Linked DNA regions of Homo sapiens: region 1 is linked to region 2. A link means that fine-mapping ties the variant in region 2 to the expression of a gene that starts in the linked region. Tissue or cell type: blood mononuclear cells. Region 2 holds a variant in brackets; the other region holds the start of a gene. All regions are shown on one strand. Distances are between the middles of the regions.

The links. PIP is the estimated chance that this variant, and not a neighbour inherited with it, causes the effect.
Region 1: KLHDC8B starts here. The variant in region 2 is fine-mapped to the expression of KLHDC8B in blood mononuclear cells (TOPMed, PIP 0.98).

The regions. Positions count from the first base shown.
Region 1 is chr3:49,166,808-49,174,892 of GRCh38, reverse strand. KLHDC8B (kelch domain containing 8B) reads right to left here and starts at 3,295. Exons shown (of 6, transcript NM_173546.3): 1 at 3,208-3,295; 2 at 1,748-2,257; 3 at 490-654; 4 at 1-151. The coding sequence starts at 2,123. RefSeq lists silencers at 3,280-3,379, 3,600-3,769.
Region 2 is chr3:49,918,525-49,926,625 of GRCh38, reverse strand. The region is part of intron 1 of MON1A (MON1 vesicular trafficking associated A); the gene reads left to right. Among named protein-coding and RNA genes, the nearest start is that of MON1A, 7.2 kb to the left of the region's middle. The variant C/T (reference allele first, on the strand shown) is at 3,139.

The DNA.
Region 1 (8,085 bases), 750 kb after region 2:
TGCAGGCCACCCAGGCTAAAGACGCTGCCTTCAGCCATGGCGCAGCCAGCAAAGGCCCGACGGCTGGGTAGGCTTGGATGCCGGGTCCATGTACGGGCCTCCAGATCAAAGGCTTCAAAAGCAGTCACCGGGAGCTTGCCCTGGCGGCCCCCTGTCAATGGAATTGGGGTACCTGGGAAGGAGCCCAGGAGGCTTGGTGGGCTCCTTGCTCACTAGGTTGCTAATCTGCCTGCCTCAGCCTCCCACATCCTGCTGTGTGCACACTTGCACATGAATCATCCACCCTACAGTCCCTCAGGTACTGGGGTTTGGTTTTCCAACCACAGCAAGACCACCAGGGGTCAGAGCCTCAGAGCAGGCATGGATCACCCCAACAAAGCTTCTCTTGTTTTGCCATCCTGGACTGAGCCTGATCCCTATCCCAGCCAACCTATGAGGATGAGGATTTCTAGACTCTGAGCCCCCTTCCCACATTCCCCAGGCCCTTACCCAGGACATAGATCTTGTTCCCGTGCAGGAAGGTGGAGGCCCCATAGCAGGGTGTGGGCATGGAGGGTAGCGAAAGCCAGCAGTCCCGACGGGGCTCATACACACGTACCTGGGCCTGGGGGGCCGTGTCAGGGCCCATTCCCCCCAGAGCATACACCATACCATCTGCATAGAAAAGAGTAGTTCAGATTGTACCTCAGCCTGCCAGGGTACCCCACCCTGACAGCTGCCCTGGTAAGTCCTGGGGGTGGCTGGAGACCCATGTGTTTATAGCATCCCTCCCCAGCAACAGACACTCTACTACCTGCCTGCAGTGGGGGCTGGGAGATCTGGGATTCCTACTCTGGCCAGGGCCCCTCCGAGTAAAGAGCAGGAGGCAGCCGATCTAATTATAATCCGACTCTGTCTCCCTGGAGATGCTATGGCAACAGAGTCTGGCATCCAAGCAGGGCTGGCCTGGGCTGGTGGTCAGACCTGGAGGCCACAAGGTGGGGACTCCCCTCGGGGAGGAAGATGGGGGGATGGCTTAAGCCAGGGGTAAGAAACATGGGGATCTGCTTAGCACAGAGCTCAGTCTGGGGAGGAGGACTGGGGACCAGCTGGAGTTGGAGATGGGGCTGGGAGAGGAATGGCTTGGGTCTGCTGGGTAAAGATACTGTCCACAAGCCTTCTGCCCCAGGATCCCTGCCAGCACCTCTGTGTGACACTCTTTCATTATAGTAGGTTCTTGCCCTCTGTTAAACCCTCAGAGTCAGCTACGACATGTCTGGGGGCCTTAGGGTAATGGGCCAGTCAGCTGGGGGCTTCCATGGCAACCATCCCAGATCAGCTTGGCCTTTGTCCATATCAGGCTCCCTGGCGTGTGGGAAGGGTTGGGGGTGGGGCAGGAAGTCTAAGCACAGGCTCTGAGCCAAGGCCCTACTCCTCTCCCCCACCCCAGACTATTTATAACCCTGGGAGTCATTAGGCCATCCCACCCCCATCTCTTAGAAATGAGGAGTGGGGCAGGAACATGGCTGGGGTCTCCCATCATCCTGGGATCGGCTTGGGCTCTGCCTCCCACCTTAGCCAGAAAAGGCAGTTAATAGAAGGCAGCAGCTCAAATCTAGGTTGGAAAGGATACAGGGGACAAGGCCACATCCTGGGCACCCATGTAAAAATTACAGCTCTTGTTCAGTCTCTGAGGGTAAGGGACTAAGTCAGGAAATAATAAAAGGTGTTAGGGTACCTGAAGTGCCTTCCTTGGGAGGCCACTCACCTCTCTCCACAGTTGCAACCCCCATGGCTGCTTGAGGGAGGGTGGCCCGACGCTCCCAGCGGCCCTCATCCATCAGGAAGGCCTCTACAGCAGCTACCGGGCTCTGGACCTCATCCACACCACCCACCACTAGCACCTGCTTGCCCAGAACTACCGCAGCTGCACCAGCCCGGGCAGTGGGCAGGGGTGCCAGTGCCAGCCATGTGTGCGAGGCCATGTCCAGTGTCTCAGCAGTGTCCAGGGGCAGTCCAGCCCGGCCACAACCCCCCAACACCAGCAGGTGCCCATCTTGGTGTGCCACTGTGCCATAGACCCGGCAAGTGGGCATGGGGGGGAACACTTGCCAAGCAAAGGCCCGGCCACCTCCTGCAGACATGGTGTTCACTGCCAGTGGCAGGCCATGCTGTCTGCTCAGACTGTAGGCCTCACTGGGGAGGCATGACAGGGCCTCATCTTGATTCTGCCAGGGCCACAAGAGGTATATGACCAGTCCAGGGACCTTGCCTTCACCTGGAGGAAAGAGGGAAAACAGGGGTCAGGGCACTGACCGGCCCCTCAGGAAACAAATAAGCAGCCTGTAGCTAAGGGCAGGGCTGGCCCAAAATCACTGGTGGGAAAGGCAGGGGGAGAACCCAACCCCTCTGGCTAGCACACCACTGTGGAGGCCCTCCTGGAGTGGGAAGGAGGGCAGGCCCCAGGTACCCAGGAGCCTTTCCCCTTTCCCATGGAGGCATGAAGGATTCTCCTTCTCACCCACTACCCAAACCACTCAGCAACTGGGTCAAATCTGGGTCTAGGAGGGCAGTAGTAAGGTGACTAGAACAGGACTCTCCATCCAGGACCCTTCCTTTCCCCTCAACAAGCCTCACGCTGGTCCTGCATGAGGGGAGTCCTTACTGGCTTCCAGGGTGCCCTGGGCAGCCTGGGGGTCCCCACGCCTGCTGTCAGGGGTCAGACTCCAGAGTATCCTTACAACATCCTGGGGGCCATTCCACAGGGTTAATTTAAACCATTCCCACTAGTAAAAGACCAGAGTCAGGGTGTGTTTCAGACTAGGGGGAGGACTAAACACCAGGGTTCCACACTCTCCTCTCGAGGTCCCCCCTCAGGAGTTTGCCCATTCCAAACCCCCCCAGAAGCCAGATTCCCTGGTGTCCAGAAGTGGGGTTGGGGCGGGGGGCCGTTGGAGAAATCTCATGACCACAGGACTCCAGGGTCTGAGTCCAGGGCGTTTCCACCAGGAATGGGCAGCTGGACTTCTGGGTTCCCTCGCAGGAGATCCCCAAGTTCTCCAGCCACCCCTTTCTCTTGGTGGCTACACTCCTGGACCCCTGGCAGGAGGGCCTCTTGGCCCCAAACTTCCAGCTCAAGGATGTGGGGGGCGGGTCTGGGCTAACGCGCTTGGGGTTCTACACCCCGCGCCCCAAACTTCCCCTGAGCGCGGTTCCCGCGGGACTCACCCGCCGGTGCTCCGATGCTGCCAGGGTACGGGGTCCGCCGTTCCGCCTCCGTTGACGCGGGATCTGGCTGGGGCTGAAGTCGGGCTCTGGCGGGGCTCCGGCACTGCTCCGGCGCGGGGCGGGGCTGGGCCAGGTCCGCCCCTCGCCCCCCTCCCCCTCCGACTCAGGGAAACCTCCTCTCGCCTTAACCCTGCACATGCCGCAGCTGGAGCAGGGCGTGCCGATCTACGGTCATATGCAAACGGACAGATAAACGGACACTTGGACACTGGGCCTGACAGAATTTAGCGTCCGACCTCGGGCAAGAGTAGAAATGAGGCAGCGGCGAGCGACACAACACGTGTATGGCAAGGGGCAGTTCTGAGCCCGACCCAGCCTGGGTGCGCAGGCTGTGTCGAGCAGGCCAGCCGAACCCGAGGGCTTGAGGGGCCGGCGCCTGCCCACCTCCGCGGAGCTCCCAGGAGCCCAATTACAGGCTTCCCGGCGGCGCCCCCTGGAGGCCACTGGGGACATGGCCTGGGCCTCTGTCGTGTGGGGGCAGCCTGGGGCGCCCTTACCTGGGCATAAAGCAGGAATAGGTCTTACAGTGTACACTGAGGCTAGCGGGGGTGGAGGAACAGAAGGCACTGGCCCTTCTACAAACCTGGGTGGGGAGAATTCCTGGAAGGAGTGATACTGAGCAGAGAATGTGCTGGAAGAGTCAGAGGCCAGGGGACCTCCCAGTGGGTCACTCTGGCCTCATCCTGTAGGGCCTGAGAGACCTGGGCTACTCTGGGACCCAAGGCACATTATAACTATCAATTTTTAGTATCCTGAGCTTGCCTCTAACCAATTCTGGGGTCAAGCAAGAGCAAACTAGTGTGACAGGGGCCCACCTACCTCAGGCCCAGACCTTGGCCCTGCCTATCTTCTGAGCATTCAGAGTATTAGCTAAGTCTTCAAGCTGAGGGCCCATTTGTACAGGTCAGTGGTACCTGTGGGAAGAGGTCCTTGCAGTTGTCTGTGTCTGCTCACTGCCTTGTCCCCCTTTCATGGACAGTGCTTATCTTAGTTTCCCCCAAAGCAGACCTGGACAAAGATATACATGCATATAGTTAGTATGGGAGGTGAGGCCAAGAAACACCAGCAGTGGCAAGGAGACAAGGAAAGCAGCCAATAAAGGAAGTGTCATCAAGCAAGCTACCACTGTGGGCCATTGGGACCAAATCCTGCTGGGGATTCTGGGAGCCAGCGTAGAACATAGGCCTTACATCATTGCTGCCCCCAAGAACAAGGGGAGCTGAGATACTCATTCTCAAATCTCCATTAGTCATGGGTTGAGAGCTGTTTGGGGGCATTACCTATTAACTCCCTGGCCTCCCTCACATCTGGCCTTCCCAGAAGTCTATGGGTAGACCCTCCCGCATGACCGGAGAAGAGAGCCTTTGCTCTTTTCAGGGACTGTCAGTTGGATTCAGTCGGCCTGCACAGAAATGGTGGTGCCAAGGCTGGTTACAGACTGCACAGACCCTGACTTGAAGGCCTCAATCCTCCTTGTCCCACTTCACCTTGGACTTGCTCCTCAGTGCCCTCACTTGGGGCACTGTTTCCACCCTCTTGTGATTGCCAATAGGCTTCCAAGAGGCTCACACTGCTCTGCAGCCCCCTTCACATTTGCTACTGTTCCCTTTCCAAGCTCCCTCCTCCTCCTTTCCAGCAATTAAACACTTACAAGCCACTTGCCTTTAGATACCTCCCAACACCCCAAGTCTCTCTAGTCTCCCCTTCCTCCACTCCAGTCAAACTCTTGAAGCCATCTGTCCTCACAGGCTCCACCTCCTTGTTACTTGTCACCTCAATGTGCTGCCACTCCTCCCCAAAAATTGTTCTTGGAAAAGTCATCATGAAATACCATATAGCTAAAACTATATGTGCCTGTGGTCCTTAACTAAATCTTGCTAGCATCTTCAAAGTTTTGCCCCTTGTGACCTCAACTCCCTCCTGCTGTTTGTCCTGCCTCTGAGAATCTTTATTTTTTATCTATTTATTTTTTTTTTGAGACGGAGTCTTGCTCTGTCACTCAGGCTGGAGTGCAGTGGTGCCATCTCCACTCACTGCAAGCTCCGCCTCCCAGGTTCATGCCATTCTCCTGTCTAAGCCTCCCGAGTAGCTGGGACTACAGGGGCCCGCCACCATGCCCGGCTAATTTTTTTTTTTTTGTATTTCTAGTAGAGATGGAGTTTCACCGTGTTAGCCAGGATGGTCTCGATCTCCTGACCTCGTGATCCGCCCACCTCAGCCTCCCAAAGTGCTGGGATTACAGGCATGAGCCACCGCGCCCAGCCCACCTCTCAAAATCTTTTTTTTGAAACGGAGTTTCACTCTTGTTGCCCAGGCTAGGGTGCAGTGGCGTGATCTCAGCTTACTGCCACCTCCGCCTTCCGGTGGTTTCAAATGATTCTCCTGCCTCAGCCTCCCGAGTAGCTGGGACTACAGGCACGTGCCACCATGCCCAGCTAATTTTTTGTATTTTTAGTAGACATGGGGTTTCACCATGTTGGCCAGGATGGTCTCCATCTCTTGACTGCGGGATCCGTCCGCCTTGGCCTCCCAAAGTGCTGGAATTACAGGCATGAGTCACCGCGCCTGGCCTAGAATCTTTTGCAGGCTCTGCTTCTTCTCCATCACCAGGAATTGGCTCCTCAAGATTCAACCCTGGCTTTTCTCCCTGGCACACATATTTCCTCTTGGGGCAGTCCCTCCCAGGCCACTGCCTTCATTCACATCTAAAGCTCCATCACATCTCTCTGCTCAGATAGAGCTGGGTCCAGGATCCACTGAGAACCATATAAGGCTGGAGGGGCAGGTGGCTCACACGTGTAATACTAGCACTTTGGGAGGCTGAGGTGGGCAGATCACCTGAGGTCAGGAGTTCAAGACCAGCCTGGCCAACATGGTGAAACCCCAGCTTGACTAAAAATACAAAAAATTGGCCAGGCACAGTGGCTCACGCCTGTAATCCCAGCACTTTGGGAGGCCAAGGTGGGTGGATCATTTGAGGTCAGGAGCTTGAGACCAGCCTGGCCAACATGGTGAAACCCCACCTCTACTAAAAATACAAAAATTAGCCAGGTGTGATGGCAGGCGCCTGTAGTCCCAGCTACTCTGGAGGCTGAGGTAGGAGAATTGCTTGAACCTGGGAGGCAGAGGTTGCAGTGAGCTGAGATCACGCCACTGCACTCCAGCCTGGGCAACAAAGGAGACTGTCTCAAAAAAAAAAAAAAAAAAAAAAAAAAGGAAGAAGAAGGAAAAAAAGAACCATATAAGATGCCAAATGGAAAGCAAAGATTGGGTCCTGGGATCACCCTGTGTTCTCTCCCATCTCATCCTGTCTGGTCCCAGTTGTGCCTGTAGGCTCAGCAGCCACTAGAGTCCAGGTCAAGTCAGACTGCACTCTGATGAGCGCTCCCAAAGAGTTCCATCTAGGGCATACTGGGCACCAGGAGGCAAAAAGTTCGGCCCTACCACCCCCAAAGGGAGCTAGGTACCCCCATGATCCTTATCCCTAATCTCTATCATTTCCCCAGTTCTCATGTCTGGAAGGGACACAGCACAGCCGGAGGATGGACCTACCCTTCCTGGTTTTCCATTTGCCCTAACTTCTGAGCTGAACATCACCAGAGAGGGGTCTGGATATAACTGTACTGTTGCTATCCCTGGAGGATGGGCTCTGGCTCTCCATGGAAGGGGTTTCTGTTTGCACAGCCATGGCCCACCTGCACACAGGAGGCCAACACTGCCGGCTTTGGAGAAGCTGCAGAAGGTAACTGGTTGAATCGGTCCTGAATAAGTGAACAGTCAATCTTCAACCATGGACGGCCAGAGACTGGACTCACCCACAGCTGGGGACTGGGGGCACCAAGGTGGGGCTTCCTGACTGCACCCCATGAGATCCTGGCCCCTGGGACCCTACTCTTGCTTTCTCTCCACCAGGAAAAAAAGGCTAGAAGCACTGACCCCAGAGGAACAGGAGATTTTGCAGTTCCTGCTAGATACCTTGGCTATACTTAAAAGCAGCGAGGACCTCACCATTAGTGCTGAGGCCCTGGGAAGCTAAGAGGCACCAGATGAGGCCTATGGCACTGCTGGGTGGACTAGGCACTTGTCTTTAGGAGTGCCTGGACCCCTCTGTATAAGCAGGGAAAATACAGAGCAACCAGAGGATCCTGGTTGGAAAAAGGGCAGGAAAAAGGGCTAGTACCCAGTCCCTAAATGAAGCATCCCGCCACCCTCCTGTGATTGCCAATAGGCTTCCACCTGACCCCAACTACCAAATAAGGCACCACTGCAAGGGTCAGAGTCCAAGAGTTGTGGCAATATTTCTGCCTCCTGGCTCAGGCTCTGACCCTAGTGCAAATGCCCCCACTACCTCATCCATGAAACCAGGGCTCCCAGGATGGTTCCCAACCTGGACTTGCAAACCTCTGACTAATGGGACCTTTGGTCAGAGCTGTGGAGACCACTCTGACCTCTCACTGAAGTCACAGACCCCTAGGGTTGATTTTGACCTGTGTCCTATAACCACCACCCCGTACTAGCCCAAGAGCATGGATAAAAAGACTGAGGTCCCAGACTCCTAGGCAAAAGGAAAGGGGTTCTGGGCAGTGTTAAGACTGGAAGCAGGACTTCCTTCCATTGAGGGGCTGAGGCTGGGCCAGTGACTATACCTGCCCCCACCTGCCTGAGCAAGTATACTCAGGCCCACAGTGGTATACTGGAGCCCCCAGACTCCATGTGCGCTTGGGCTTGCGTGCACCACTTGTGATCACGTGCACACCAGCCTTTCATGCCATGTGCCACAGGCCCTATTCTCAGGAAGAGAGGAAGGCCTGCTGTCCT
Region 2 (8,101 bases):
AATTAGCCAGGCGTGGTGGCACGTGCCTGTAGTCTCAGGTACTCAGGAGGCTGAGGTGGAAGGATCATTTGAGCCTGAGAGGCCAGGGCTACAGTTAGCTGTGATTGCATCACTGCACTCCAGCCTGGGTGACAGAGTGAGATTCTGTCTCAAAAAAAATAGAACTCCTCCCGCATGTGGCTTAAAGCCATACTGAAATTTGTGGTAGGTCACAGGGTAACCTTCAATCCAGAGAAATAAAGCAGGGCAAGAGGGGTAAGGAGCAGGGATATTGATAAGGTAATGCTTGAGCAGCAACCTGAAGGGAGTGAGGGACTGAGTCACATAGATAACTAGCCCAGGCAATGGAGTAGGTGAAGTGGGGTGCAGGGGGAAAGTTCAGCAACGGCAAAGTTCTAAAGTTAAAGAGTGCCCAGGAGGCTTAAGGAAAGCCAGGAGGCCACTATGGCTGGGCTGAATCACAGTTAGTGGGGAAAAAGGATAAGAGATGAGGTCAAAGAAGTAATGGGGAAGGAGTTATGTTGAGTGGGGCCTTGTGCACCACTGTGAGGAAATTGGCTTTCTCACTGAGTAAGGTGGGACCATTACAGAGTTGTGAGCAGAGGAACTGCATGACCTGAGTTCTGTATCAAGAGAATCACTTTGCTGTAAGAAGCACAGATTATGCAGGGACAAGGGCAAAAGAGGGGAGACTAGATAGGAGATTACTGCAACAATCTCCTAGAGAGACACTGGTGGCTTTGACCACAGTGGTAGCTGTGGAGGTGACAAGTGGTCAGATTCTGGATATAGGCATTTCCCACTTAACATCAGTAATCTGTTTCATGAAAATTGGACATTCTGTGTGAAATCTTCAACTTAATATATTTTCCATTGATTGATTGATTGAGACAGGGTCTTGCTGTGTTGCCCAGGCTGGAGTACAGTGGCACAATCACGGCTCACTGCAGCCTTGACCTCCTGTACTCAAGCGATCCTCCCACCTCAGCCTCTTAAGTAGGTGGGACTACAGGCATGAGCTGCCCCACCCAGCTGATTTTTTATTTTGTAGAGACAGGGTCTCACTATGTCAGCCAGGCTGGCACTCAGTAATTTTCTATCAGTTCTATTTGGAATATAATTTGAAGCTTTAAATGCACATTACTTTGTTAAAAATATAGATAAGATTTTAATGATGTAAATATACATATTTTCTGTATAAACATACACTGGGCCAGGTGTGGTGGCTCACACCTGTAATCCCAGTACTTTGAGAGGCTGAGGCAGGCAGATCACTTGAGTCAAGGAGTTTGAGAGCAGCTTGGGCAACATAAGGAGACCCTGTCTCTACAAAAAATTAAAAAATTAGCCAGGCATGGTGGCACATGCCTGTGGTCCCAGCTACTTGGGAGGCTGAGGTGGGAGGATCACTTGGGCCTGGGAGGTTGAGGCTACAGTGAACCATGATCACACTATTGCACTTCGGCCTGGGTGGCAGAGTGAGACCCTGTCTCAATAGATAAATAAATAAACATAAGCTGAATCAACATAAGTTTGGTATATTAGTTAACTATTGCTGTGTAACAAATTATGCCAAAACTTAGCAGCTTAAAACAACAATATTTATTATCTCATACAGTTCTTGTGGGTCAAGAATTTGGGAGTGGCTTAGCTGGATGGCTCAAGCTCAGGGTCTCTTATTACGTTGAAGTCATCTGAAGGTTTGACTGGGCCTAGATGATCTGCTTCCGAGATGACTCACTCATGACTAGCAAGTTGGTACTGGCTGTTCACAGGAGGTCTCAGTCCCTTGCCATGAAGTTCTCTCCATAGAGCTGCTTACATGTCCTTACAACATGGCTGATGGCTTTCCCTAGAGGGAATGATCCAAGAGAACAAGGCAGAAGCCACAATGTCTTTTATGACCTAGCCTCAGAAGTCACACATTGTTTTTTCATTTTTTTTTGAGACAGGGTCTGCTCTGGCACCCAAGCTGGAGTGCAGCAGTGCGATCTCAGCTCACTGCAACCTCTGCCTCCCCCCGGGTTCAAGTGATTCTCATACCTTAGCCTCCCAAGCAGTTGGGATTACAGGCGCCCGTCATGACACCTAGGTAATTTTTGTATTTTTAGTAGAGATGGGGTTTCACCATGTTGTCCAGGCTGGTCTCAAACTCCTGACCTCAAGTGATCAGCCCATCCTGGCCTCCCAAAGTGCTGGGATTACAGGCATAAGCCACTGTCCCCAGCCACACATTGTTATTTACACAGTGTCCTATTGGTTGCATAGGTCAGCCCTGCTCAGTGTGGAAAGGGAGTATGCAAAGTCGCATAGCAGGAGTTGAGGATTACTAGAGACCATCTTGAAGGCTGACAACCAAGCTGGATATTAAAAACAAAAAGGCATTCTATGGTGAAAATGTTAACTAGAGACATTTTGCTGGATGTGCCTGTATTCTGAAATAGAGCTAACAGGATTTGCTGATGGTTTGGTATATGAGGTGTGGGGAAAAAAAGAGAGGCGTAAGGGATGACTCCAAGGTTTTTTGTTTTTTTTTTTTCCTATGAGACAGAGTCTCGCTCTGCCACCCAGCCTGGAGTACAACGACACGATTTTGGCTCACTGCAACCTCTGCCTCTCCAGTTCAAGCAATTCTCCTGTCTCAGCTTCCTGAGTAGCTGGAACTACAGGCACGTGCCACCATGCCCGGCTAATTTTTTGTATTTTTAGTAGAGACAGGGTTTCACCGTGTTAGCCAGCAAGGTCTCGATCTCCTGACCTCATGATCTGCCTGCGTCGGCCTCCCAAAGTGCTGGGATTACAGGTGTGAGAAACCGTGCCCGGCCGACTCCAAGGTTTTTCACCAAACAACTGAAAGAATGAGATTGTCTTTCTTGGCCAGGTGAGGTGGCTCACACCTGTAATCCCAGCACTTTGGGAGGCCAAGGTGGGCAGATCACAAGGTCAGGGGTTTGAGACTAGCCTGGCCAACATGGTGAAACCCTGTCTCTACTAAAAATACAAAAATTAGCCAATGTGGTGGCACACGCCTGTAGTCCCAGCTACTCGGGAGGCTGAGGCATGAGAATCGCTTGAACCTGGGAGGTGGAGCTGAGATTGCGCTGTTGCACTCCAGCCTAGGCAACAGAGCAAGACTGT[C/T]TCAAAAAAAAAAAAAAAAGAGCTTGTCTTTCTTTCGTTCTTCCCTTCCTTTCTTTCTTTCTTTCCTTCCTTTCTTCCTTTCCTTCCTTTCCCTCCTTCCCCTCCTTCCCCTTCCTTCCTTCCTCCCTTCCCTCCCTCCCTCCCTCCCTTCCTTCCCTCCCAGAGTCTCGCTGTGTCACCCAGGGTGGAGTGCGGTGGCGCGATCTCAACCTCCACCTCCCGGGTTCAAGGGATTCTCCTGCCTCAGCCTCCCGGGGTAGCTGGAATTACAGGCATGCGCCACCACACCCGGCTAATTTTTTGTATTTTTCATAGAGATGGGGTTTCACCGTGTTAGCCAGCATGGTCTCGATCGCCTGACCTCATGATCTGCCTGCCTCGGCCTCCCAAAGTGCTGGGATTACAAAGTGTGAGAAACCGTGCCCGGCTGACTCCACGGTTTTTCACCAAACAACTGAAAGGATGAGATTGTCTTTCTTGGCCAGGTGTGGTGGCTCACACCTGTAATCCCAGCACTTTGGGAGGCCAAGGCAGGCGGATCACCAGGTCAGGGGTTTGAGACCAGCCTGGCTAACATGGTGAAACCCTGTCTCTACTAAAAATACAAAAATTAGCCTGTGTGGTGGCACACGCCTGTAGTCCCAGCTACTTAGGAGGCTGAGGCACGAGAATTGCCTGAACCCAGGAGGTGGAGCTGAGATCGCACTGTTGCGGTGAGCTGAGATCGCGCCATTGCACTCCAGCCTGGGCAACAGAGCAAGACTGTCTCAAAAAAAAAAAAAAGAAATTGTCTTTTTTTCTTTCGTTCTTTCCTTCTTTCCTGGCTTCTTTCCTTTCTTCTTTTCCTTCCTTTCTTCCTTTCCTTCCTTTCCCTCCTTCCCCTTCCTTGCTTCCTTCCTTCTTTCCTTCCTTCCCTCCTTCCTTCCCTCCTTCTTTCCCTCCCTCCCTCCCTCCCTCCTTCCTTCTCTCCCTCCCTCCTTCCCTCCTTCCTTCCTTCCTTCCTCCCTTTACAGAGTCTCGCTCTGTCACCCAGGGTGGAGTGTGGTGGCACGATCTCAACCTCCGCCTCCTGGGTTCAAGCTGGAGTGCGGTGGTGCGATCTCAACTCTGCCTCCCAGGTTCAAGCGATTCTCCTGCCTCAGCCTCCCGGGGTAGCTGGGATTACAGGCATATGCCACCACACCTGGCTAATTTTTTTATTTTTAATAGAGACGGGGTTTCACTGTGTTAGCCAGGATGGTTTCGATCTCCTGACCTTGTGATCTGCCCACCTCGGCCTCCCAAAGTGCTGGGATTATAGGCGTGAGCCACTGCTCCCGGCCGTCTTTCTTTCTTTCTTTTTTTTTTTTTGAGACAGAGCTTTGCTCTTATTGCCCAGGCTGGAGTGCAATGGCGTGATCGTGGCTCACTGCAACCTCTGCCTCATGGGTTCAAGTGATTCTCCTGCCTCAGCCTCCCAAGTAGCTGGGATTACAGGCATGCACCACCACACTTGGCTAATTTTGTATTTTTAGTAGAGATGGGGTTTCACCATGTTGGCCAGGCTGGTCTTGAACTCCTGACTTCAGGTGATCCACCCACCTCGGCCTCCCAAAGTGCTGGGATTACAGGCATGAGCCACTATGCCCAGCCATGAAATTGTCTTTTACTGAGATGGTGAAAACTCTGGGAGAAGTGGTAAGTGCCTGTAGTCCCTGCTACTCGGGAGGCTGAGGCAGGAAGTTCACTTGAGCCCAGGAATTTGAGGCTGTAGTGCATGGTGGGGTGGTGATTACACCTGTGAATAGCCACTGCACTCCAGACTTGGTGACAGAGCAAGACCCCATCTCTTAAAAAAAAAAAAAAAAAAGTGCTACCACGCCCGGCTAATTTTTTGTATTTTTGGTAGAGATGGGTTTCCCGTGTTAGCCAGAGTGGTCTCGATATCCTGACCTGGTGATCCGCCCACCTCAGCCTCCCAAAGTGCTGGGATTACAGGCGTGAGCCACTGCACCCGGCCTTTTTTTCTTTTTAAAGACAGGTTCTCTACCAGCCAGGCGTGGTGGCTCAGGCCTGTAATCCCAGCACTTTGGGAGGCTGAGGCAGGCGGATCATGAGGTCAGGAGGTTGAGACCATCTTGGCTAACACGGTGAAACCTCGTCTCTACTAAAAAATACAAAAAATTAGCCGGGTGTGGTGGCAGGCGTCTGTAGTCCCAGCTACTCGTGAGGCTGAGACAAGAGAATGGCATGAACCCAGGAGGTGGAGCTTGCAGTGAGCTGAGATCGCGCCACTGCACTCCAGTCCAGGCGACAGAGCGAGACTCCATCTCAAAAAAAGAAAAAAAAAAGGAGACAGGGTCTCACTCTTATTGCCGAGGCTGGAGTGCAGTGGCACGATCTTGGCTCATTGCAAGCTCTACCTCCCGGGTTCCTGTGATCCTCCCACCTTAGCCTCCTGAGTAACTGGGACCACAGACACGTGCCACCACGCCTGGCTAATTTTTGTATTTTTGTAGAGGCAGGGTTTGCCATATTGCCCAGGCTGGTCTTGAACTCCTGGGCTCAAGTAATCTGCTTGCTTTGGCCTCCCAAAGTGCTAGGATTACAGGTGTAAGCCACCATACCCAGCTAGGAGCAACTTTTTAAGGAGATGACCTTTTTTTTTTTTGATGCAGAATCTGGCTCTGCTACCCAGGCTAGAGTGCAGTGGCACGATCTTGGCTCACTGCAACCTCCGCCTCCCACATTCAAACAATTCTCCTGCCTCAGCCTCCTGAGTAGCTGGGATTACAGGCGTGTGCCACCACACCCAGCTAATTTTCATATTTTTAGTAAAGATGGGGTTTCACCAGGTTAGCCAGGCTGGTCTCAAACTTCTGACCTCGTGATCCACCCTCCTCGGCCTCCCAAAGTGCTGGGATTACAGGTGAGAGCCACCACGCCTGGCCAGGAGATGGCCTTTTTAAGGAGTTCAGTTTGAGGCATATAACCTTGAGATAACATGAAGTAGACAGTTAAATGTGTGTGCCTCTTTAAGTCAGAAAAGATATTGGGGCTGGAGATTAAAAAAAAGTATTAATATGTAGAGGGAATTTAAAACTATGAGACCAAATGAGATCACCAAGGGATTGAGTGAAGACAGAGAAGAGGTCCAAAGACTGAATTCTGTGCCCCTTTACAGTAAGAACTGCAAAAAGGACTCAGAAGGAGTAGTCCATGAGGTCAGAAGAGAGCCAAGAAAGGAGTGGTATGCCATAAAAGAGGAGAAAATGTTTCAAGAGAGAGGAAATAACCAAATTATCTATTGTTTATGGGTGAAGTAAGATGATCCTGGAGGTCGTTGGTGACCTTGATGGGAGCAGTGTTGATGGAGTAATGGAGGTGAGATTCTGTTCAGAACTGGTTTAGAGAGAATGGGAGAAATGGAGAGGCTACGGCAGAGACAATTCCTGCTTTCCAGATATCCGTGAGCTCCATATATTTCCCAGTCCCTCTGGCCACATCACTGGTTCTGGCCAATGTGAGCTACGAAGTATTTAAGAGCTGGTACATGATCCTCCATCTCTGTCTTCCCTTGCCAGGTGATGTGGAAGGCATGTGTTCCGAATGGCTTCTATAGGGTGCTAGTGGCTTGGATTCCTGAATCACTGCTTGGAAGGGAGCTACTCTGAATTGCTACCAGTCCCACAGTAGATTTTATGTGAGCAAAAAATAGGTCTTTGGGGCTGGGTGCGGTGGCTCATGCCTGTACTCCCAGCACTTTGGATCCGTGAAGGTGGGCGGATCACCTGAGGTCAGGATCACCTGAGACCAGCCTGGCCAACATAGTGAAACCCCGTCTCTACTAAAAATACAAAAATTAGCCAGGTGTGGTGGTGGGCGTCTGTAATCCCAGCTGCTCGGGAGGCTGAGGGAGGAGCATCGCTTGAACCCAGGAGTCAGAGGTTGCAGTGAGCGGAGATGGCGCTGCTGCACTCCAGCCTGGGTGACAGAGTGAGACTCCGTCTCAAAAAATAAAAAAAGATCTTTGGGTGTAAAACCTGTAGCATTTGGCATCCATTTTTTACACAGAATAGTCTAGCCTACCTGACTAATGCAAACTCCAAATATTATTTGCCATTTTGAGGGGGTTTGTTTGTTTTTTTATAAAGGGCAACAGAAAAATGGGTTGATAGCTAGTGGGGAATGTAGAGTTAAGGGGAAGTTTGTTTTGTTTTAACTTTGAAGTAAAACAAACATATAGAAAAGTTCACAAATCATAAGTATAGCCCAGTGAATTATTACAAAGCGAACACCCCCAAAATTGTTTGGTTTTTGTTTTTGAGACAGGATCTCACTCCCTTTACCCAGGCTGGAGTGCAGTGGTGTGATCACCACTCACTGCAGCCTGGACCTCCTGGGATCAGGTGATTCTCCCACTTCAGCTTCCCAAGTAGCTGGGACTGTAGGTGCATGCCACCACACCTGGTTAATCTTTTGTACTTTTTGTAGAGATGGGGTTTTACCATGTTGCCTAAGCTGGTCTCAAACTCCTAGGCTCAAGTGGTTTGCCCACCTAGGCCTCCCAAAGTACTAGGATGACAGGCATGAGCCACCAAGCCCTGCTGGGAGGGGGTTTTGAAGACAAGAAATATCACCATATTGGTAATGGATAAGGGAGAAGGGGAAACTGATGAGGAGGGACAGCTGCTGAAGCCATGTACCTGAGTAGGTGAGAGGGGCTGGGCTCTGGTGTACACATGGAGGAGTTAGCCTCTATGGAGCATGAACAGCTCATCTTTAGTAAGAAGAGGGGGCCAGGCACGGTGGCTCATGCCTGTAATCCCAGCACTTTGGGGGACTGAGGCGGGTGGATCATTTGAGGTCAGGAGTTTGAGACCAGCCTGGCCAACATGGTAAAACCCCGTCTCTACTAAAAATACAAACATTATCCGGGCGAAGTGGTGGGTGCTTGTAATCCCAGCTACCTGGGAGGCTGAGG